3 linked regions of the Homo sapiens genome follow. Each later gene encodes a partner of the first gene's protein in a complex. Each region holds a gene or a part of one and is shown on either strand. Other genes may lie near its edges. A codon is read from its position in the direction of its gene.

Evidence for each region. Proteins that work in one complex are often made in the same cells at the same time.
Region 2: the proteins of INTS9 (region 1) and BRAT1 are in contact, whole or in part, in a cryo-EM structure (PDB 8UIB), measured with the Homo sapiens proteins. Residues at the interface, in NP_060720.2 of Homo sapiens: Gly276, Met277, Gly279, Glu280, Cys282, Ser283, Asn284, Ala286, Leu287, Arg290, Asn291, Tyr315, Asp317, Ser318, Ala319, Gly320, Ser483, His484; in NP_689956.2 of Homo sapiens: Ala406, Pro407, Cys416, Pro460, Gln506, Lys507, Arg508, Cys510, His511, Pro512, Arg517, Glu545, Leu549, Gln552, Asp556, Pro557.
Region 3: the proteins of INTS9 (region 1) and INTS4 are in contact, whole or in part, in a cryo-EM structure (PDB 8RC4), measured with the Homo sapiens proteins. Residues at the interface, in NP_060720.2 of Homo sapiens: Lys2 (codon at 2,923), Tyr4, Lys18, Ser21, Thr22, Leu43, Val44, Gln45, Glu87, Glu89, Leu90, Asp92, Asp97, Thr122, Glu145, Arg146, Val147, Pro148, Lys159, Glu174, Ser176, Thr177, Ser192, Gln195, Phe206, Gly207, Ile379, His380, Ser384, Asn385; in NP_291025.3 of Homo sapiens: Leu53, Gln54, Leu57, Gln58, Arg61, Lys62, Pro86, Ser87, Leu90, Lys91, Ser94, Gln125, Gln129, Asp132, His164, Gln207, Asp208, Pro209, Arg210, Arg212, Asp244, Tyr245, Glu246, Gln247, Trp296, Phe837, Gly840, Leu841, Val842, Val843.

The regions. Positions count from the first base shown.
Region 1 is NC_000008.11:28,886,957-28,894,768, forward strand, and holds the start of INTS9 (integrator complex subunit 9), read right to left. Parts: upstream 3,014-7,812; 5' UTR 2,927-3,013; coding exon 2,918-2,926; exon of another isoform or gene 2,886-2,917; intron 1-2,885. UniProt on the Homo sapiens protein: Component of the integrator complex, a multiprotein complex that terminates RNA polymerase II (Pol II) transcription in the promoter-proximal region of genes.
Region 2 is NC_000007.14:2,552,509-2,559,936, forward strand, and holds the start of BRAT1 (integrator complex assembly factor BRAT1), read right to left. Parts: upstream 3,017-7,428; 5' UTR 2,979-3,016; exon of another isoform or gene 2,533-2,978; intron 1,940-2,532; 5' UTR 1,924-1,939; coding exon 1,797-1,923; intron 1-1,796. UniProt on the Homo sapiens protein: Component of a multiprotein complex required for the assembly of the RNA endonuclease module of the integrator complex.
Region 3 is NC_000011.10:77,991,653-77,999,038, reverse strand, and holds the start of INTS4 (integrator complex subunit 4), read left to right. Parts: upstream 1-4,370; 5' UTR 4,371-4,395; coding exon 4,396-4,449; intron 4,450-7,386. UniProt on the Homo sapiens protein: Component of the integrator complex, a multiprotein complex that terminates RNA polymerase II (Pol II) transcription in the promoter-proximal region of genes.

The DNA of each region.
Region 1 (7,812 bases):
CTTTAATCTTTTCTCAAGGGTATCCATAGACCTTGATAAACCTTCAGAAATTATTTACCAATTATTTACACAGAATCTACATGGGGGAGGACAGACACACGCCAATAATTACAAGTGCTACAAATAGGAAGTATGCCATCAAATATATAACAGGGGTACTTAATTCAACGAGGCCCTGAAGAAGTGTTATTTAGACAGAGATCTGAAATATATGAAGAAATTAGCCAGGCAAAAAAGAGTGAGGCAGGCAATGGAACATATTCAACCAAGTTAAGTGTAGGAGGTTATCCTAAGGGCAAAGGAAGATACTGAGAGGGTTTCATGGAACTCTGCAATTAAAACAACTTCCGGATGCAGAGGAAAGAATGAATTTGAGAGGGTTAAGACTGAATGCAGAGAGACCAGATAAGGGGTCTTGTTGAATTCCGATTACAAAGACAGTATTCTAGTTGGACTGGAGAGAAATAGAACCTATTTAAGAAAGCTGCATTTAGGAAGCAGAATCAATAAGAGGTGGTCATAGATTGTGTGTGGGAAGGGTACTCTGGAAAGTGAATCTCAAAAATGAGAAAATGCTAAACAAAATGTGTTTTTGTTTCATAATTATAAATTTAAAACACAGCCTATTACATATTTCTGAAGCAGTACACAAAATTAAAACTTTTAGGCCATGGGAGGACTTATTCCAACCATTTGGGAGGCATGACACACCCATCTAACTTACTGAGCAACAATGCTTTTGGTATGTTGATGGGAATTCTCAATTACATTTATCTATCAACTACCAAATAAATTTTAGTATGTAATACATAGTTGCAAAGTAAAGAGGGAGTATGAGTATCAATAGAATACTTCCTTTTCCTCTGAGACATCTTTGGTTCTTAATGGAAAAAATAATTTTCCACTTTTTTACAATCCCCGGTTTCATATTTCTAAATAAATTAAGCAGGAGGATTTTATGAGCAAACTAAAATATATGTAAAGTAAACCCTGGCTTTTTGATACCCTCACTAATGAGTTGTTATGGGAAAAACTATTTCACACTTCCCTGCCTTCTTAAACTGAACACATTAAATATAATTTGCTCTTTATTGAGAACACAGGGTCCATGCTTTAGCCAATAAGGTACCAAGCTCTTATGCTCCTATAAGCTGACCTCTTTCATGGAAGGCCCTGGCTTACTTATCCTTATCAGTTCAAGAGTCACGTTTCCAGGAAGCTGTCCCCTGACCTCCCCAATCCTCTGTTCTCTGAATTCCCAAAACCCTGAACACGCCTCTATTTCACCATGAACACAGTGAATTATAATTTCGGACCAGGCATGGTGGCTCATGCCTGTAATTCCAGCACTTTGGAAGGTTGAGGTGGGCAGATACCTTGAACCCAGGAGTTTGAGACCAGCCTGGGCAACATGGTTAAACCCCATTTCTACAAAAAAAATAAGCAGGGTGCAGTGGTGCGCGCCTGTATTCCCAGCTATATGGGGAGACTGACGCGGCGAGAGGATCGCTTGAGTCCGAAAGGTGGAGGTAGCAGCGAGCTGAGAACGCGCCACTGCACTTCAGTCTGGGCCCCACAAAGCCAGACCCTGTCTCTAAATAAATAAATAATAACTTTGGTTTACTTTTCTATCTTCTTCTTAGGTTGCATGCTTCTGTAGGGCAACGGCTATGACTTTTAATTCTGCATTATTAAATGTGTAACACACTGACCCAGGGGTAAGTTGCTATTCTCAAGGTTTAGTGACCCGCATCCTTCCCCTTATATAAACAGATTTATACGGGGACAATTTCGGAATTGAATCCACTTTTAATACTTTCTCTGACTTCGCAGAAAACAGCTGGCTTTGCAGAATATATGCCTGTAGCACAATGATTATCAAGATGAGGGTAGGTGTGTTGTGTGGTTTGGCAAAGCATGTTCAGATAATTATATAAATGGTAAAAAATAAACTTTTTTTTTTTTTGAGACAGAGTCTCGCGCTGTTGCAAGGCTGGAGTGCAGTGGCGCGATCTTGGCTTACTGCAACCTCTGCCTCCCGGGTTCAAGCGATTCTCCTGCCTCAAGTAAAGCTTGACAATAACTTGGCTGCACAAATATGGGTTTTAAAAGGTTGAGAAACAGTGTTTCACACCTGCCTTTCTACACTATGTTATTAACTAATTGAATCGAGTTGGAATAAACTAGTTAGACTTGTGTGCACAATGAGTCAAATGGCTCAAATCAAAGGTCTGAGGAGCCTCCATGAACCAGGTGCTTGAGCTGTGTGATGTTAAGACTTCAGGTATACCGAGCACGCTTCATTCAGCCTTGGCTCATGAAGTCCCTACAGTCTTAGAATGGAATACCATATAACACTTCTCTGCCCATCTAAATCCCATGCAGGGTTTAAGACTCAACTTCTCCACACTCTGACCTCGTCCTGAATTCCAAGGGCAGTGAGGAGTCTATATAACAGGATATTTAATAAGTGATTACGTTCTGCTGGATGTTTTTTACTGTCTGCTTAAATCTAGCCAGTCTCAACAACAGTAGGGAGACAGGATACTCAAGCGCCAATCGAATGGAAACGGATTGTTAACAGCCTATTATAACCCTCACGTGGGAACCAGGACGTCCAAACCTGGTTAACAGAGCCCACAGAGTTCATGGGCGAAGGACTGTGACAGTCAACCTCTTGTCTGAACAAAAAGACCCACTAACGAGTGAAAAAAGACCTCCTGGGAGGGATGGGGTGGGGGAGAGGGAATTCAAACCTTCTCAACAACAAAAAGCAGCTTTCCTTAGCCCACTCCACTTTCCAGCTCAATAATTGCTACCCCTCCCGTGCGACGATTCCCTGCCCAACGTAGGAAAAAAAGAGGTCCAAAAGGTTATAGCATCACCTTTGCCCTCTGACCTAGGAGCGAAGACTCACCAGTTTCATAATGGACTTTTGGTGGTTCAATAGCAGTCACTGAACTCCTCAAACCCAGGAAGCGTCTTCCGGTGCAATCTCCGCCACCTGCCAGCCGAGAGCATCGCGGGACTTGCAGTCTTTCATCCTCACGTCCCTTCCAGGGGAATAATGGGAAATGTAGTCTCCCCTCCAGGCATCATGGGAACTGTGGTCGCCTTTCCTTTTCCTCCCTTTCCTCTCCGAACGCCTCCTTCCGTCAGCTCAAATTCATCCCAGCCGCCAATGCATCCTCCCTCTCCACCCCAGCATGATATCATGTCTTCCTTACGGGCCTGGGGCCCATGGTGTTCTGGGATGTGTAGTCCCGACGGCTCCGACTCCCCTTTCCCTCCTCCCAAAGGGAAGGCGGATGGGCACGGGGCTTGCCGGAAGTTGTAGTTCCCTTGGCCCTCTAGGCGCCGGGCTCCGCAATTTTTCTCAGGGGAGGCAGGAACTACAACTCCCAGGGACGCCCGGCGGCAGCAGGTGGGAGAGGGGCTGTTGATATCAATATGGCGGTTGTCAGCCAGACAAAGACAGTCAGTCTGATGTGATTGAGACAAGGGAGGTTTTTCAGGGGGAGACTGGGAGATAGGGGCCTCCCCTCCCCCTTCTCCTCTTCCTGCGCCGGCCTCAACCCCTCCCCAGTCCCCTCCCGACGGGCGCCCCACGCGGAAGACACCCCTCCCCCTCCCGCCTTCCCTCCTCCCTATCTCAGCCCTTCGTACTGGGACGTTGGGGAGGGGGCTGTGCCGGGCGGAGAGAACTCAGCGAGGATTCTGAGGTGAGTCGAGCGGTTTTGAAGCCGGACTACCTCAAGTCTCTTTCCTCACTTCTTTCTCTTCACTTAAAACAATTTTTTTGGAGGGGTTTTGGGGAGGAAGTGAGCGGACGCTGGGGATGGGTCTCGTAAGCGGCCGGATTGAGAGGAGGGAGGAAGCAGGGGGCTTCCGAGTGGGTGACCCAGACGCGGGCTGTGGGGTGGGGCAGTTCGTGGGGTCCGGTCCTGGAAAGGCGTCGACTGCCCCCCAACTCTTCTGGTTTCCTCTACGATGAGCGGAAGGTTTGAATCCTGGAGGTGGGGTCTCCGGTGTGGAGTTCTGGAAACTGTGAGGTGATTTGCAGGTGTGTTGGTTTGTTTGGGGTGTGTAAGTGTGTTTAAACTGTGTGACGTGTACTTGTGTGCTCTGCTCGTCTTGGAGCGGTGTCTGTAGATGGGAAGTTAGACAGCGCGAGTCCTCGCTCGCTCTGGGCCTGGGCTGAGGGGCGGGCGTGAGGTCCTGGTGCTGGGCGTTTGGGCTGGCGACGTGGTGCGAGGCGGCCGGGCTCAACAACTCGCTTGTGTCCCGTCGCCCGCTCACACTCTGCCACTCGCCTCCGCCCCCTCCCCTGGACGAATCTCCACCCCAAACTCCAGCCACGAGAACTGTAGAGATGGTGTGATGTGGAGATGGATTTTTTGCATCCTCAAGTCGGTAGATAGGTGGGAAAGGAAAAGTGTTTCTTAATATTTTATTCCGGAACCGTGTTTTGGTTACACTATTGGGGCTACTTTGAAAGGCGTCCTCCACCCACCTTCACCCCGAAACAGTAGGTAGAGGTATCTTGTCTTCGTGTGAATTAGATGAATAATTGCTGAAGATTCGGGGGGCCTGGGGTGGGGGTCGGGAGTGCTGGATTGTGTACGCGTCTGTGTGTGTCTACTAAGGAGACGGAATGTCTGTTATGTATCTGGAGATAGGGCGACTTATTTTCGTAGCAGGAGGAACTGTTGGAAATTATTTGCGGGAGAGGGGGTGCGCCGAAAGGCGCTGCTTGTATTTTTCTTCTACTCCACCCTGTTCTGTCTTGCATTTGCCTGAAAGCTGGTGGAATGGAACAGTGAAGAAGCATTGGGTGAGTAAAGGGAAGAATGCAGTTGGCATTAAAGATAACACTATGTAAAGTTGAATGGTATAAAGTGATTACTGTTTTTATTTACGCTGAAGCTTAAAAAAAATCACCCATGTATCATATAAGGTAGAGTGATGTGACTAGCTCATTTCTCTGGTATCCTGCAGGTACAGAAACCTCTGGCTTCCCTCTTCCTTCCTTCCTATCCTCCCTCCTTCCTTCCTTCCTTAAGTCCTTCCTTTCTTTCTTGGCTTCGTACAACATTTCTCTTTCTGTTGGACATAATACCGCCTGTGTCTTTTTATTTAGTTTGTGCTAATATGGTTGTGCTTTTTGTGGTTTTACCATAAAATGCATCGTTAAATGCATTTATTATTTTGCATTTATGCTGCAGGTAATTATCACATCAGGATTGCAGTGCTTTGCATTAAACTTATTTTAAAATTGTGCAATTAAGTTGCTTGATCTAGCTGAATTATGTTTCTAAGTCAAAGTTGGGAAATTTGAATTCTAAATTTTTTTTCAAATTTCAATTAGAGTTAAAAAGGAAAGGATTGCAACATCTCTTATTTCTCACAGTTTTTAATATTTAATAACACACTAGGAGAATTTAAGGTCATATTTTGTACTTCCTTATTAAGTTCTTCAATAATCCTTATGTGACAATTTTTTTAGTGTAACGGATTTTTAAAGTAAAGAAATTGGCATAATTTCTATTTCGACTGTTGAGAATTGAATATATTCCCCAAACTTATCAATTCTTGAATCTGCCACCTATCATCAGTAAGGGACCTTTAGATTCTATGATAACTGAAAACCACATTGATAGAGTGTGTAATTTTATGATATGTCCTCTAACCATTGATTTAAAATTTTTGCTGTTGGTCATTCACACAGATAAGGGGGACTGAAAGAGTGAGGTAGCATGTATATTTCAATTGACCTGAATAGAAAAAAAAATGTGATTTCTAAATCTCAGATGTAGAATATACAATATGTTGATTCAAAACTAAGCCATTAGTTTGTGATAGACCAGGATTTTCAGAATCATTTGTTTTAAGCTTGTATCTTAACTTGAAACACTACTTTGCAAAAACCAGAGAAAAATCCTACGTAACTACTTAACGGAGTGTTTTGTTTTATTTTTCTGAAGCATATTATAATAGTCATGGAGTTTTTTAAAAAATGTTTAATAATTATTTTAGAAGTAAAAAACCAACATGTTTGTTAATATTTTAAATTGGAAAAACACGAGTGTTTTCTCTTCCATCTACCCTTACCTCAAAATTTCTTTTTGTTTTGTCTATAGAAGTGCAAAGTTATTTACTTGAAAAAGCATTCATTAAACTTTTTCTGGCTACTAGTGGGATCAAAATCATTACATGTAAACCAAATATATTCCCAGCATTTGTTGGGGGTGATTCTGTTGCATTTTAAGTACTGGGCATTAAAATGATGTAAAGCCTTTACTGCAGGTTAAAGCATAAAACATTCTCAGCATGTGAGAGTCATATGGTTTACAAATAAAGTAGAAAACCAGGGCATGGGTGCTTGTCCAGCTTACAATTTCATCCCGTAACTGTGAAAGACACATTTATTTTAATGTGATTGCTTCTAAAGATGTTGCCTGTATTATGGGAAGTTGAAAATCTAAGCTGCTTTTAACTAATCTGTTGCTAGTTTAGTTTACTGCATTTAGTGAACACTATGTATGGTCACAAATACGCATCAAGGAAAGGAGCCTTTAGCTGGAAGTTGAATGCCTTTAGTGAGGCTTCGTTTTCACTGCTGTACAAACAGATTTCAGTCTTCTAGCCCAAATCCTCAGTTAAAACATCGCTAATAGAAACTTAATAGCTCAGTGTTCCTAAGTTACAAAATATGTGGCAACAAATCTGTCATTGTTACATCATTTAAAAAATAGCAACCAGCTTATGGCAATTTTTGTGGCAAGTGTTGATTGGAATTCTATTGCTTGTTTCATAGATATTGAATACATTGGGAATATTTAGGCTTAATTTGTGTATTTTGAGTCTCCTGTACACTGTATTCAGCACATCCCACATTTAGGGCTCCCGTGCAATTTAGTTCTGTTCATTTCATTGTAGCTCTTGCTTCTCTTATTTTTGTATACAGCTCTTTAAACCTGAATTATTTCTCTTGGGAATCAGGTATTTATGTAGAATGTTGTCATAAGTGAAAGTTGGCATACCACTCAACTTTTTAAATACATGAACATTTATAGATAAACCGAATAGTGCTCATTGAAAATGTGTTGGTTTTGTTTGTTTTGTGAACCAGCTTTATTTAGTTCTTTGGCTTCTGGAATTAATTTTGTAGCTCACTTTGCTATTCTTTGGCTAGATTTTTCTGTTAACAGTTGGCTTTTACTTCCCACTGTAGTAGAACTGTAATTTATTAAAGCATTGTTGTGAGTGAAAAGCATGGCTTGTCTAGAGTGCCATATATGTACACCCACAATACACTCATACATAAAATACTTTTATGTTTATTTATTTATTTATGAAATTGGTGTATATCTATCAGACATGCCTCCCATAAGAAAGAATCTGAGCCACAAATAGCAGAAGACCTTGAACTTTGACTGAAGCTAGAAACCAAAGAGTAACCAGCACATGTTGTCCACATTATAGAAGCTGAGGAGATTTTCATTATCATTCCAAACCATTATTTTCACAGATTTTGTTAAAATACAGTTCTCTCAAAATGGAAGCTATTGATATTGAAAGTTTTCTCAAAATATTAGTAAGTAAGACGTAGCATGGATTCCTAGGTGCAGCTATTCCCCCACATTGCCCTTACTGGATTTAGGGCCCATCATAGGCGCAGAGTAAAGATTTTTCCATGGGATTATTTGATGTAAACTTTTAGTTGCAGTGTATTCAAACATAATCCAGTGCTTTAGATAATTTGTTTTCCTTGACCTTAGATGAAACAAGTTGGAAATTTACTATAACATT
Region 2 (7,428 bases), on another chromosome or scaffold:
TGAGCCCAGGAGATCGAAAACAGCTTGGGCAATACGGTGAGACCCCATCCTTAAAAAAAAAAATACAATATAATTTAAAAATAAAAAGAATAAAAGAACACGGTAAACCAAAAAAAGGAAGTAAAGAATAGCAGAAATTAACAACATGCAGTCTATCCCAATGCAATTATCAACCATGAGAATAAACATTTACATGCGAGAATATTTATGTAAAAGGAAAGCCATTATGACACTATTTTTTTTTTTTTGAGACGGAATCTCGCTCTGTCGCCCAGGCTGCAGTGCAGTGGCGTGATCTCGGCTCACTGCAAGCTCTGCCTCCTGTGTTCACGCCATTCTCCTGCCCAGCCTCCCAAGTAACTGGGACTACAGGCGCCCACCACCACGTCTGGCTATTTTTTTTTTTTTTGTATTTTTAGTAGAGACGGGGTTTCACCATGTTAGCCAGGAGGGTCTTGATCTCCAGACCTCGTGATCTGCCTGCCTCGGTCTCCCAAAGTGCTGGGATTACAGGCTTGAGCCACCGCGCTCGACTGACACTATTTTTTTGAGACAGAGTCCATTCTGTCGCTGGAGTGCAGTGGCACGATCTGGGCTCACTGCAACCTCCGCTTCCTGGGTTCAAGCGATCCTCCCCCTCAGTCTCCCAAGTAGCTGGGATTACGGCGCATGCCACCATGCCCGGCTAATTTTTTTATTTTTAGTAGAGACGAGGTCTCACCATGTTGGCCAGGCTGGTTTCGAACTCCTGACTTCAAGTGACCTACCCGCCTTGGCCTCCCAAAGTGATGGGATTACAAGCATGAGTCACCGCGCCTGACCTATGACACTACTTAAAATGATGAAAAATGAGAAATATAAACATCTGACAGTGGAGTGATTCAATTAATTATGGTCTATTCCTACAGCAAATAACATGTAGTCAATAACATTAACATATTATGTGGAGAAAACACTCACTATGATAGCAAGAGAGAAAGCAAGACACCAAAATTGTGTTTACAGTATGACCTCATTTTTTTTTCCCCAGAAAAATACAGCTTTATGTGTTATGAAAAGGCTGGGAGTAAATTAAAACGTTGATGGTTTAATTTTCCTCTTTACTCTTTTGTTCATGTTTTAAAGAACATGTATTACTTTGTTTTTTTTTTTTGAGACAGGGTCTCACTCTATCACCCAGGTCAGGGTGCAGTGGCACAATCATAGCTCACTGCAACCTCTACCTCCCGGACTCAAAGGATCCTCCCATCTCAGCCTCCAGAGTAGCTGGGACTACAGGTGCGCCACCAGGCACAGCTAATTTTTGTTTTTTTTTTTTTTAGAGATGACGTCTCGCTATGTTGGACCAGGCTGGTCTTGAACTCCTGGACTTAAGCAATCCGCTCGCCTCAGCCTCCCAAAGTGCTGGGATTACAGGTATGAGCCACTGCATCCGGCCCCTACTTTCATAATCAGAAAGAAAACAAATCTGATGTCTTAAACACACTAAATACAACGAGAACAACAATAAAACAAGTTTGTTCACGCCTTCTGTAGAACTGAACCTTGGGGTGCCCTGATCGTGGCTCAACTGGCTGAATTTCAGGCTCTAACTCTCCAGATCATTCTCTCGGGCTTCATCTTAACTTGCCCTCAGTCTGCCACAGATAATCCTTAGGAAGTGAAGGAAAGACATCTGATTGGCAGTTTCTGCCCTTCCTCCAGGACAGGGGAGTCCCCATCTGGCCCCTGCTCCCTGTCCCAGCCTCTGCGTCTGGTCTCTGGATAGGCAGTAAACAGCAGCACCACCTCCTTACCTCCTTCAGTGACCGTTTTAAACCAGTCCAGGAGCTTCTCCAAACAGGTGTCATCTGCCACCGGCTGCCTGGGATCTACCAGAACAGCACAGAGAGCCGGGAGCAGCTGGGCGCATTCTGGGTCCATGGTGAGGCCGCAGGCCCTGCAAAGGCAATGTGAGAGCCAAACCTCAATGCCCACTCCAGACCCAGCTCGCTCTAGTCACAGCAGCCCACCATGCCTGCTCAGGCCTGGGAAGGGGCCCCAGAACTTTCATCTCAGACCAGGAGAACCATGATCCCCAGACCAGAGGTCTGTACTGCAGGGATGGATGCAAAGCTTTGGTCTAGGTGGGGCCCTGAGCGCTGGTGGCGGGGCTGAAAGGGGCAGATGAGGGTCTAGCTGAAACCACAAGGCCTCCGGAACTCAAAGTCTGTCACCCTTGGTCTTTGGTGCAGTCGGGGCAACAGCGTGGTGCTGGCCCAGGCTGCAGGTGGGCCAGAGTCAGGGGCATCTTTGAGTTCCGGGGTCAGCCATGTGTGCAAGGGGATGTCTACCCATGCCCCAGGGCCAGCCTGGGCTGGAAAGTTTCTGTCCCTCCCAGCGTCAAGTGGTGGCTGCATTTGACGTCCTGAAGCCAGCAGGGGGGTGCGGAGGGGAAGGGGCGCCTGTCCGTGTGTCTGTCCCTCTCAGGGTCAGTGGTGGCTGCATTTGCTGTTCTGCAGCCAGTAGGAGGGTGAGGAGGGGAAGGGGCACCTGTCCGTGTGTCTGTCCCTCCCAGGATTAGTGGTGGCTGCATCTGAAGCCGGCGGGGGGGAGAGGGGGGCGGCGGGGTGCGGAAAGGAAGGGGCGCCTGTCTCTCCCAGGACCAGGTGTGCATCCGTGCGTCCAGCCTCGGGGGTGGGCGGGGTGGTCAGCGGCTCTGTCTAACCGGGGCACCGTCTGCCAATGCCCGGGAAGGCTGCGTCCCGGGAAGAGGAACCCTCCCCACACTTTGAAGTCAGTTTTGGCCGCGAGCGCCAGGCCCGAGAGTCCAGAAGGGGCGCCAGAGCAGGCGGCCACAGTCGGGCTGGGAAGCGAGCCCAGGTCGCGCACGCCCCGGGCTGGGCTGCTCCCTGGCCCGCCCGCCCCCCTCGGCCGGGTCTTGGCCTCCCCGCGCCCCACTACCACGACCTCGACCCCCGAAGGCCCACGCGCCTCACCGCTCGGTTGCGTCCTCCGCCGCAACCACCCCTCGCCCAAGGCTCCGCCTCCGGACAGTGCCACCTGCCAGGCCCGGAGGAGGCGGAGGACGGAGACGGCTGGCGTGGGGAACTGAGACTGCACCCCTGGAGGCCGCTCTGGAAGCCTCGAGGGCCCAGACTTGAAGGAAGGAGTTCAAGCTGAGAGGGGCTGGGGACAGGCAGGCGCCAAGCCGGTCGCTCCGACAGATCACCCCCGCCAGGCGCCTAGTGGTTCATGCCGAGCATCCGGTGGGTGGGCGGGGCGTCTCGAGGGCGGGGATCTCTGAGGAAGGCGCGGGGTTGTGTCCGGAGGGGCGGGGCTTCGCCTGCAGGGCGCCCAGTGTCTGCACCGGCGGGAGCGAGAAAACTATGTGCCGGAGAGAAGCGTCCTGATCCGTGCACCAAAGCCCTTGGTCATTTAGCTTCAGGTTCTCAAATTAAGTCCTCCGCGGCCGCGCTGTGGCTCATGCCTGTAATTCCAGCCCTTTAGGAGGCGCAGTTGGGAGGATTGCTTGAAGCCAGGAGTTGAGACCAGCCTAGGCAACAAAGCGAGACCCCATCTCTTAAAATTTAAAAAAAAAAAAAAAAAAAAAAAAAAAGGCCAGGCGTGGTGGCTCACGCCTGTAATCCCAGCGCTCTGGGAGGCCCAGGCGGGCGGATCACGAGGTCAGGAGTTCGAGACCAGCCTGGCCAACATGGCGAAATCCCGTCTCGTCTCTAATTTTTGTATCTCTAAGATATCAAAATTAGCCGGACGTGGAGGCGCGCGCCTGTAATCCCAAGTACTCGGGAGACTGAGGCAGGAGAATCTCTTGAACCTGGGAGGCGGAAGTTGCAGTGAGCCAAGATGGTGCCACTGCACTCCAGCCTGGGCTACAGGGCGAGACTCCGTCTCAAAAAAAAAAAAAGAAAATCAGCCAGACCTGGTAGCATGCGCCTGTGGTCCCAGCTACTCCAGAGGCTGAGGCGGGAGGATCGCTTGAGCCCAGAAGTTCAAGGCTGCAGTGAGCTATGATCCTGCCCCGGCACTCCAGCCTGGGCAACAGAGCAAGACCCTGTGTTTTAAGAAAGCAAACAGGCAGAAAAACTAGGTCCAAAAAATTGAGTTCAAAACACTAACTGTGTGTTCGAGAGTCTCAAAGCCAGTGGATAGACAAGGCTCATGTTCCCAAAGCATTGTTTTATAGCAAGATTGTTGGGAGCCAACACCAGATTTAGGAAACAAAGCAGAATTCCTATGGATATTAAAATTTAAAAATTTAAAAGCACTGACTTTGCTGGGTCACCTTTATTTTATTTATTTATTTATGGAGACGGAGTGTCACTCTTTTTGCCCAGACTGGAGTGCAATGGCTCAATCTTGACTCACTGCAACCTCCACCTCCTGGGTTCAAGCGATTCTCCTGCCTCAGCCTCCCGAGTAGCTGGGATTACAGGTGCGGGCCACCACGCCCAGCTAATTTTGTATTTTTAGTAGAGACGGGGTTTCACCATGTTGGCCAGGCTGGTCTCGAACTCCTGACTTTAGGTGATCCGCCCACCTAGGCCTCCCAAAGTGCTGGGACTACCAGCGTGAGCCAACGCGCCCAGCCGTGCTGGGTAACCTTGGAAAAGCAACTTCCCTGACGCTTGCATGCCCCCTGCACACACACACACACGTACATCCTTAGAACTACATGTGTGAAAAAGTTTGAAATGCACAGTTATCTTCCCTGAAATTTGGTTCCTCATTGTGAAATGAGATACTAACATTCACCCAGTTAGGTAATTGTGGAGTAAAGAAAACTCAACAACAGCACTGTGCTAAGTGCTTCACTTACTGTAAACTTGTATGATTCTACAGCAACGGTAGGAGAGTACCACTACCAGCCCATCAGATGAGGAAAATGAGGCACAGAGAGGCTAACTCATAAGGCCTTACAGCTACTGGATTGGCACAGTTTGGATTTGAACCCAAGCAGTCTGGCTCCAGATTTGAATATTGTATTGCACAGGTCCACAATTTTTTTTTTTTTTGAGGTGGAGTCTCGCTCTGATGTCCAGGCTGGAGTGCAGTGGTGTGATCTCAGCTCACTGCAACCTCCACCTCCCAGGTTCAAGCAATTCTCCTGTCTCAGCCTCCTGAGTAGCTGAGACTACAGGCACCCACGACCCCTGGCTAATTTTTGTATTTTTAGTAGAGACAGAGTTTCACCATATTGGTCAGGCTGGTCTCAAACTCCTGACCTCAAGTGATCCACCCACCCTAGACTCCCAAAGTGCTGGGATTACAGGCGTGAGCCACCATCGTGCCTGGCCCAGGTCCACAATTTCTTATCTCAAACTTTTGGGGACAAATGTTTTTTCAGAATTCAGAACTGTTCAGATTTTAGAAATGTGACATGGCACATGTACATTAAATATGAGATTACAGCAGAGTGTGACACACACCCCATAATTAAACGTATTAATAGTTATTCAGGGCCGGGTGCAGTGGCTCACGCCTGTAATCCCAGCACTTTGGGAGGTGGAGGCGGGCGGATCACGAGATCAAGAGAGCGAGACCATCCTTGTCAAGGTGGTGAAACCCGTCTCTACTAAAAATACAAAAATTAGCTGGGCGTGGTGGCACGCACCTGTAGTCCCAGCTACTCGGGTAGCTGAGGCAGGAGAATCGCTTGAACCCAGGAGGCAAAGGTTGCAGTGAGCGGAGATCGCACCACTGCACTCCAGCCTGGGCCACAGAGCAAGACTCCGTCAAAAAAAAAAAAAAAAGAAGTTATTCAGTGAAACTCACTCATGTACACCCCGTGGGATAAATAAGCACTATAAATAGCCTCAGCTCAGAGTTTTCCTCCCGGAGAGTTGAGGTTAGGACTGGTCTGGCCTTCAAATGAGTTGTGAAGGGCTTTCGGAAGTTTGTGGAATTCAGAATCACAGATAAAAGGTCGTAGATAGGCGCTGGCTCTATAATTAGATAAGAGAAGGGCAAAAAGTTTGCGAAGCCCAAGGGTGGGAGAGTGGCAAGAGGTACTTATGCACAGGGAGCACGTAGAGCAAAGCGCCCTGGGTGAGACCCTGAAAGCAAACGAAAGTTTATTATGTGTGTTTGTTTGATTGAGACAGGGTCTTGCTCTGTCGCCCAGGCTGGACTGTAGTGGTGCAATCATAGCTCACTGCAGCCTCGACCTCCTGGGCTCCAAGCGATCCTCCCACCTCAGCCTCCCGAGGAGCTGGGACTATAGGCGTGCACCAGCATGCCTGGCTTTTATTTTTATTTTATTTTTCGAGAGACGGGGTCTCGCTACATTGCCCAGGCTGGTATCAAACTCCTGGGCTCAATTGAATCTCCTGCCTTAGGCTCCCATAGTGTTGGGATTACAGACGCGAGCCACTGCGCCGGGCCGGTTTTTTTCCCCCTCTCAGCCCCCGCGCTCCGCCCCGGGAACTCCGGGAGCGCTCCTGGTCGGCCGGCCGGCGCCCGCGGACTCTGCGCACGCGCATGGTCGCCCCAGGGGGAACGCAGGTCGCTTACCCGGCTGGGTAGGTCGGCGGCCTGGTTGCCATGGCAGCGGGGTCGCGGGCCGGCGCCAGGGAAGGCCCCGAGGCTGCGGGCGGCCAGGGCTGCCCGCGGATTCCCAGACCCGGACGCCCGAGCCAGCAACCCTGAGGGGCGGCCGGGCAGCGCCGCCACCATGTTCCTGGGCACCGGGGAGCCGGCCTTGGACACGGTAAGAACGGGCGAGGGGGCGACGCCGGGCGGGCGTCCGCGAGGCCTCGGCTCGTCTCCGTCGCCCGCAGCCTCGGGGCCCCGCGCAGGGGCCGGCCCGGGGCGTGAGGACGGGGCGCACGGCCGGGTGACAGCTGCCATTATTGTTACCGCACAAGAGCGCGCTGCAGGCCCCGCGCCGCCTGCAGCCTCGCCCGCGCCCGCTTTCGCAGAGGCCGCCGCTTCCAGGAAGCTCTCCGGGACGCCGCGCCCTCGCCTCTGGGCGCCTGCGAGTCTGCGGCCCGCAGGTGACGGAGCTCACGGTGTAAGTGCCTCCGGGCACCCCCGATCTAAGGCGGGATCCACGGATCCCGTGTGGCCCCAAGCCTTCGGGGTGGGAGGGAGGCAGCCCCAGGGTCTGGGAACCCAGCTTGGTCAGAGGAGGCTTCCTGGAGGAGGGTGGGGCCCGATGTACTCCCCAGGGCGAGGGTGCATGAGCCTTAGGTTAGTTACTTTGCCCGGTAAATATCTACTGTGTGTTAGAGACACGGGAATAAGCTGCATTCCAGTGGGGGGGGGGGGGGGGGCGGAGGGACAAGGTAATAAACAGGTAATTAAGATCGTGTCAGAAAGTGAGAAGTGCTGTGCAGAAAATGAAACAGGCCCATATGGCCGGGAGCCGTGGCTCAGGCCGGTAGTCCCCCGGTAGTCCCTGCACTCTGGGAAGCCGAGATGGGAGGA
Region 3 (7,386 bases), on another chromosome or scaffold:
GGGCTTTTTTTGCAATCATTCAACTACACACTGGATCCTTTCCATCATGGAAGGAGCAGTGATTTGTCCTCACAGGAATAGATTCATATTCCAAATTCAGATTTGACTTCCCTGCCTGCAATATTTCTGCCAGCTCCATCATCTATGGATGCCTCATTCATTATCATAGTACTCCACACATTGCTTCTGATTAAGGAGCTTATTTTATGCTGAGAAAATTGTAGTGAAGAAACTTCTTGGTCTTGCCAGGAACCCCATCATTCAGATGTAGGTGCTATAATAAAGCAGAATAATAACCTTTTGGAGATTCAGTTATAGCGCTAGTCAAGAGCCAACACATTGTGAGTTTGGGCCGCTGTTTGTGGCATATGCCTTATACCAACAGCTAAAATATAGTACTGCTTCTCCCACAGTTAGAACATGGGTCTGGTTATCAAAGGGTGGAGATAGGAGCAGTTCCTCTCTCTTTTACACCTAATAATTCATTTATGAATTCTTGGGCTCAGTAGGTTTGGAAGACTTACTCCCCAAGGGAGGAACAGTTGCCCTAGAGAACATAGTCATTGTTCATTACATTGGACATGTAATGAGACTGTCCCCAGACCACTGGGGCTCTTGTTCTGAACCAGCAGGTAGAGAAGAAGTTACTAAGTTGGGCTGCTGTTATGCAAGAGAGAGAGAAGACTGAAGCCTCACGGATTCATTCACAGGTGAACCTTAATGTATTTTCATAAGTAATAATAAAAGTCAAAGGAAAATGGCATCAATACAATAAAGACGGTTTTTCAATTCAACATTAAAGAATGTGTGTTCTTGTTTCTATACCAATCTGGCTCATTGAGAAGTTGGCTATACCAACTTCTCAAATTTATTTATTTATAATTTAAAAAAAATTTATATAGCCAGGCGTGGTGGCTCATGCCTGTAATCCCAGCACTTTGGGAGGCCGAGGTGGGCAGATCACTTGAGGTCAGGAGTTTGAGACCAGCCTCGGCAACATGGTGAGACCCTGTCTCTACTAAAAATGCAAAAAGATTAGCTGGGTGTGGTGGCGCATGCCTGTAATCTCAGCTACTCATGAGGCTGAGGCAGGAGAATCGCTTGAACCTCAGAGATCGAGGCTACAGGGAGCCACGATTGTGCCACTGCACTGCAGCCTGGGTGACAGAGATAAACTCCATATAAATTTTTTTTTTTTAAAATATAGAGACAGGGTCTCTTTCTGTTGCACTGACTGGTCTGGAACTCCTGAGCTCAAGGGATCCTCCCACCTACCACCTCCCAAAGTACTGGGATTACAGGCATGAGGCACCATGCCTGGCCTCAACTTTATTTTTATTGCTTCTTCTGTTCCCTGCATGCACTTAACTTTCAACATGAACTGAAGTTCCTTTGGTTTTCGGAATGCACCAAACTCCTTCCTAAAGCCATTTATTTATTTATTTATTTATTTATTTATTATTTTGAGACAGGGTCTCATTCTGTCACCCAGGCTGGAGTGCAGTGGTGCGATCTCAGCTACTGCAATCTCTGCCAAGCGGGCTCAAGCAATCTTCCTACCTCAGCCTCCCGAGTAGCTGGCACTACAGGCATATGCCACCACGCCCAGCTAATTTTTTGTATTTTTGGTAGAGATAGGTTTTCACCATGTTGCCCAGGCTGGTCTCCAACTCCTGAGCTCAAGCTATCCTCTCACCTTGGTCTTCCAAAGTGCTGGGATTACAGGTGTGAGCCACCGCACCTGGCCGCCATGTATTTAATAACGATGATAATACTCTGTATCATTGATGCTATGATGCACATTTAATGTCTCCGAAATCAGGAGATGTTGGCCAATCGCTCATATGTATACTGAGTCGTAGCAGTTCATGGTGTCATCGCTTCGACTGAGCTCTGTGCAATTTTGGAATTACATGTGTTATTTTAAATTACTATTAAATATATCTCCAAATAGATTACCCTATAATTTGGCATTAAAAAGTTCTTATGTGCACAGGAAGACATGGAAACAGCAGTGCGAGGTAAGATACAAATCTATGTCTAAATAAGTTAAAAAGAGCTGTTTCTGTAAGTATACATAACAAATCTAAGCAATTAGAAACCATTGTATTTAATTTCAGCATTTCTTTTCTTAACATAATAAATAAAATATTGATTTTACAATTGCTGGCAGCTTAGATTTGATAGAATATGATAATGGTAATAATAGCAGCTAAGCTTTATTAAAGGTACTGTTTGCTAAATGTTTTTCATTTCCCTTGACATATTTGTATATCTTATCTCGGCGGTCTGGGATGCCTTTGTTTCTGGAAAAACTCATTCTTTTAAAGCTGCATTAGAAATAGTTTCCTTTTTTTTTCTTTTTTTTTTCTTGAGACAGAGTCTCGCTCTGTTGCTCAGGCTGGAGTACAGAGGCCCGATCTCGGCGCACTGCAGCCGCTGCCACCTGGGTTCAAACGATTCTCCTGCTTCAGCCTCCCGTGTAGCTAGGATTACAGTCACCCACCCCGACGCCCGGCTAGTTTTTGTATTTTTAGGAGAGACGGGGTTTCACCATGTTGGCCAGGCTGGTCTCGAACTCCCGACCTCAGGTGATCCGCCTGCCTCGGCCTCCCAAAGTGTTGGGATTATAGGGGTGAGCCACCGCGCCCAGCCTTTTTTTTTTTTTTTTTTTTTTTTGGAGACAGGGTCTCACTCCGTTGCCCAGGCTGGAGTGCAGTGGCTGGATCTCGGCTCACTGCAACCTCCACATCCCAGGCCCAAGCGATTTTCCCGCCTCAGCCTCCAGAGTAGCTGGGACTTCAGGCGTGGGCCACCATCATGCCCAGCTAAATTTTGTATTTTTAAAGTAGATTTCGCCATGTTGCCCAGGCTGGTCTCAAAACTTCTGAACTAGGTGATCTGCCCGCCTCGGCCTCTCAAAGTGCTGGGATTATAGGCGTGAGCCACCACTCCCAGTTTCCTCTAATTTTAGGAAAGCCTTCCCTGAGGCACTCTGAAGAAATTAGGTCTGTTTGAACCACATTCATTCCCGTTACCCAGCACATTTCAGTTGCACTGTCACCATCAGTTTGGGTGTCTGTCTTCTCAGATTGTAGGACCTTGAGGATAAATACTATCTTTTGTTTATTTTTGGGTCCTCTGTATCCACCTCAGCCTCCTGCTTTTTTTTTTTTAAACTATCCCACATTAATTCTTTTTTTTTTTTTTTGATAACGGAGTCTCGCTCAGTCGCCCAGGCTGGAGTGCAGTGGCGCGATCTCGGCTCACTGCAACCTCCGCTTCCCATGTTCAAGTGATTCTTCTGCCTCAACCTCCCAAGAAACTGGGATTACAGGCGTGTGCCACCATGCCCCGACTAATTTTTGTATTTTTAGTAGAGACGGGGTTTCCCCATGTTGGCCAGGCTGGTCTCGAACTCCTGACCTCAAGTGATCCATCCGCCTCGGCCTGCCAAAGTATTGGGATTACAGGCATGAGCCACCGCGCCTGGCCCACATTCTTTTGAAAGACCAAAATAATGAACAGCTAGTTTCATGTAGGTTGTAAAACTTGACCTTGGATTTACTGACACTAACATGTGCACTACACCTTACAGTCCGTAAAATGTTCCTGCATTATTTCACTCCATTGTCACATCTTTGTCAGGTTAGTTATTATAAATGCATTTGTAGTTGAGCCATTTGCTCAAGAACCAGAGCTGTAGTCTGTAGCTTTGTTGCTTTATCCTTGGTCTCAGAAGTCTTCTACTGTACTATAGCTATCAGAGCAGGGATTGATGCCTTAAAGGATGGCAGCTTTTGCAAAACTGGAATAAGGAAGTATGGAAAGGCACCCCAAAACAAGAGAGGTGGCGCACAGCTTGAACAAAGGCAGTGCTCAGGAAACCTACAAACAGCATCGTGTACAGCAAAGGATGATGGGAAAGTCAGCCGAGCCTCTGAGTTTTTTCACGAGTCGTAAACCCCTTACAGAGCTCCGGGTTTTGCCTCTAGCTCTGGAGCACCCCGCCTCTGCCCTTTAACCTGTACTTCCTCCCTCCCTCCCTTCGCGCCGCGCCGCGCTAGTCTCTTAGCCACTCCGAGGCCACCAACCAGCCTCCCAAAGCTCCCATTGGGTTGCCCACCCTTTCAGTCTCAGCTCCTCCCGCCAGAGGCCCCGCCTCCCACAAGCGAAGCTCTTATTTCCGTTCTTCCGGCGTAGGCCGCCAAATCAGTCCGTACAGTGGCGAGGCAGTCGAGCAACAGGAAGCGGTCGCTCTTTCCCCAAATCCCACTGCCTTGTGGGATCTCGGCAAGTCATCCACCCACCCCCCGCGCCTACGCAAGTTTTCCGGATCCGTCCACCCCCGCCTCCCTCCTAGTGTACGGAAGCTGAGAGGGCCCGCGGGTAGGCATGGCGGCGCACCTTAAGAAGCGGGTTTATGAGGAATTCACGAAAGTGGTTCAGGTAAGCTCTGGCGGGAAAGATCCAGAACCGATCCGGACCAGGGTAGATTATCCAAATCCCAGGCACTTTGCCGGAACAGAAGAGGCTCCATACGCCCGTGTTAAGTGCTGACTTGTTGATAATCTCTGATATTGCAAGTTAGTGGGCGTGTTAGTTTGCAGCCGCTGTTGTCATTAATATGTGAAGTCTGACAGGATTTTAAAAAAATTATTAGGAGAAACAGTGTTTTTTAATTTACGAAACTGTCTTATCCGTTATTTCATTTTATTCTCTCACACAACTTTGCTCCATCGCGTTACATTAGCATCCTCGTTTTCCAGATGTGGACATTGAGCCTTCCGGAGGGGTACGAGGATACAGCCAGTTAGCAGCAGAGCCCCTTCTAGCCTCCCCGCACCCCCGTTCCAAAAAAAAACCTCCCAGGGACCAGTTGGAATATACACAAGGTTCTAAGGGGCTGAAAGAAGGGTCTATAGAATTCCTTCAGGCGCAGTCTAAGCAGGCGGGGGTCACAGACTTCATAGGGGAAGAGCTCTCTATTGGTAGAACAGCTCACCTAGGAAGGAGGGCAGTACCTTCCTCACCATGAAGTTGTGACAGGTGGGCAGAGTCCCTGTCGGGAGTCAGTGATGCTCCATGTGTCTCCACGTAGATGTTGCTAGGGTTGATCCTAAATCATCCTGATGTCCTATTTCTCAGATATTAATGTGTATACAAATTACCTGGGGACGTTGTTCAAATGTCGATTCTATTTGATAAGTCAAGCAGAGGAGGTGAGGCAAGATTCTGCATTCCTGACATGCCCCCAAATTTACACCAGTGCATTGGTTGCATTCTTAGATCCTTAGACTTGTAGAGTGGCAAGGCTTAGAGCATCCAGCAGGATACTGATCCTTAAACATTACATGGATTCATTCATCCAGCATTAAAATATGTTAATACAAATACAAAATATGTCAATACATAATATAAAATTTACAATTTTAACAATTTTAAGTATAAAGTTCAGTGGCATTAAGAACATTAGCACTGTTGCACAATGTGATTTCCTCTCTTCCCAACATTCTGTTGTTCCCATTTCCCAAGACTGCTCAGCCCTCTTCCACCCATCCTCACATGACCAGATATGCCATGTGTTCTTGTGTTTGCATATCTCAAAACTCTTGCACTGGTTGTCTCTTCTCACAGAATACATGCCATTCTTCCCTTTCTTTTTGTTCTCCACCCAGTGGACTTAACATTTGTGCTTCAAGACCCAAATGAAACCTCAGCGAGAGCTTAGTCTCTTCTTCACCTGTTTCTGTAGCATTCTGTGGTACTAATCTATTTGTACTTTTTGTTCAGTGCTGCTGTCATTACCGGTGTACCTATCTTCCCACCAGTCGGAGGTCCTTGATGGCAGAGCTAATGCCTGGCTCATCTCCGTGTCCTGGAGATGGACAATAGGGCCTGGCTCACTAAAGTGTTATTGGTGGTTGAATGACAGTTGATATTGCTTGTCCTCTCCCTTATATAATACTTAGGGAAAAAATTCCTAGCTTTTGACCTAACTACAGCTTCGATAAGACTGAAAACTGAGTTTGAGAGGACTAGGATAGAAATGGCTAAGAATTTTAAGGGAAGAGCTAATTTCTTCACTTAATTTTTCATCAGTTGTTAACATAAAGTGATTAAATGAGATCTTAGTGCTTCTGTTCTTTTTTCTCCGCTGAAAAGATGAGGAGGGAGAACTGATATGTGCCTAGCACTTACATATACGTATAATAAAGTTATGTTTAATAACAGATTTATCGACTAGCTCTGTGATAATAAAGTATTGGTATGCCCTCCTATAGAAGAAGGCCTTCCCCAGCTAGTAAGTTGTAATTGAATACAAATTCCTCTGACTCCAAAGTCCTTATTCTTTTTATCATGTCATACTGTGTTCTTGTCTAGAATAATTCTACTCTCTTTTCTATAGAAATGTGAATTTGTAAGGAGGTGATTGCTCAGTACATAAAAACGCACCATTAGGTGGTAAGGAAATTTATTTTATTTTATTATTATTTTTTAACAGAGACAGGATTTCACCATGTTGCCCAGGCTGGTCTCGAACTCCTGGGCTCAAGGGATCCTCCTGCCTCAGCCTCCCAAAGTGCTAGGATTTCAGGTGTAAGCCACTACGCCCATCGGATATTTGTTTCCTTTTCTTCTGTTTTGAGATGGAGTTTCGCTCTTTTCGCCCAAACTGGTGTGCAGTTGCGCAATCCTAGCTCACTGCAACTTCTGCCTCCTGGGTTCACGCAATCCTCAGCCTCCTGCATAGCTGGGACTGCAGGCATACACCACCACCCCCAGCTAATTTTTGTGTTTTTAGTAGAGATGGGGTTTTGCCATGTTGGCCAGGCTGGTCTTGAACTCCTGGCCTCAAGTGATCCGCCTGCCTAAGCCTCTCAAAGTGCTGGGATTACAGGCATGAGCCACCATGCCATGTCTGATATTTGTTTTCTAATAAAGAATGGACTTTGGGAGACTGAAGCAGAGGGATCACTTGAGGCCAGAAGTTCGAAACCAGCCTGGGTAACATGGCAAAACCTGTCTCTACTAGAAATACAAAAATTAGCCATGTGTGGTGGCACACACCTGTAATTCCAGCTAGTTGGGAGTCAGGGAGGTGAATCGCTTGAACGTAGTAGGTGGAGGTGGCACACACCTATAATCCCAGCATGTTGGGTGTCAGTCAGAGAATCATTTGAACCTAGGAGGTGGAGATTGCAGCAAGCCAAGATTGCACCATTGCACTCCTGCCTGGGCGACAGTGTCTTGCTCTGTCTCAAAAAAATGGAGTAGATCCTTTGTGTGACCTCTAAACCCAAAGGCTACCACAATCCTCAGAGATAGGTAGAGCAAAATGTTAGTGTAAGGCTGGGCACCGTGGCTCATGCTTGTAATCCCAGC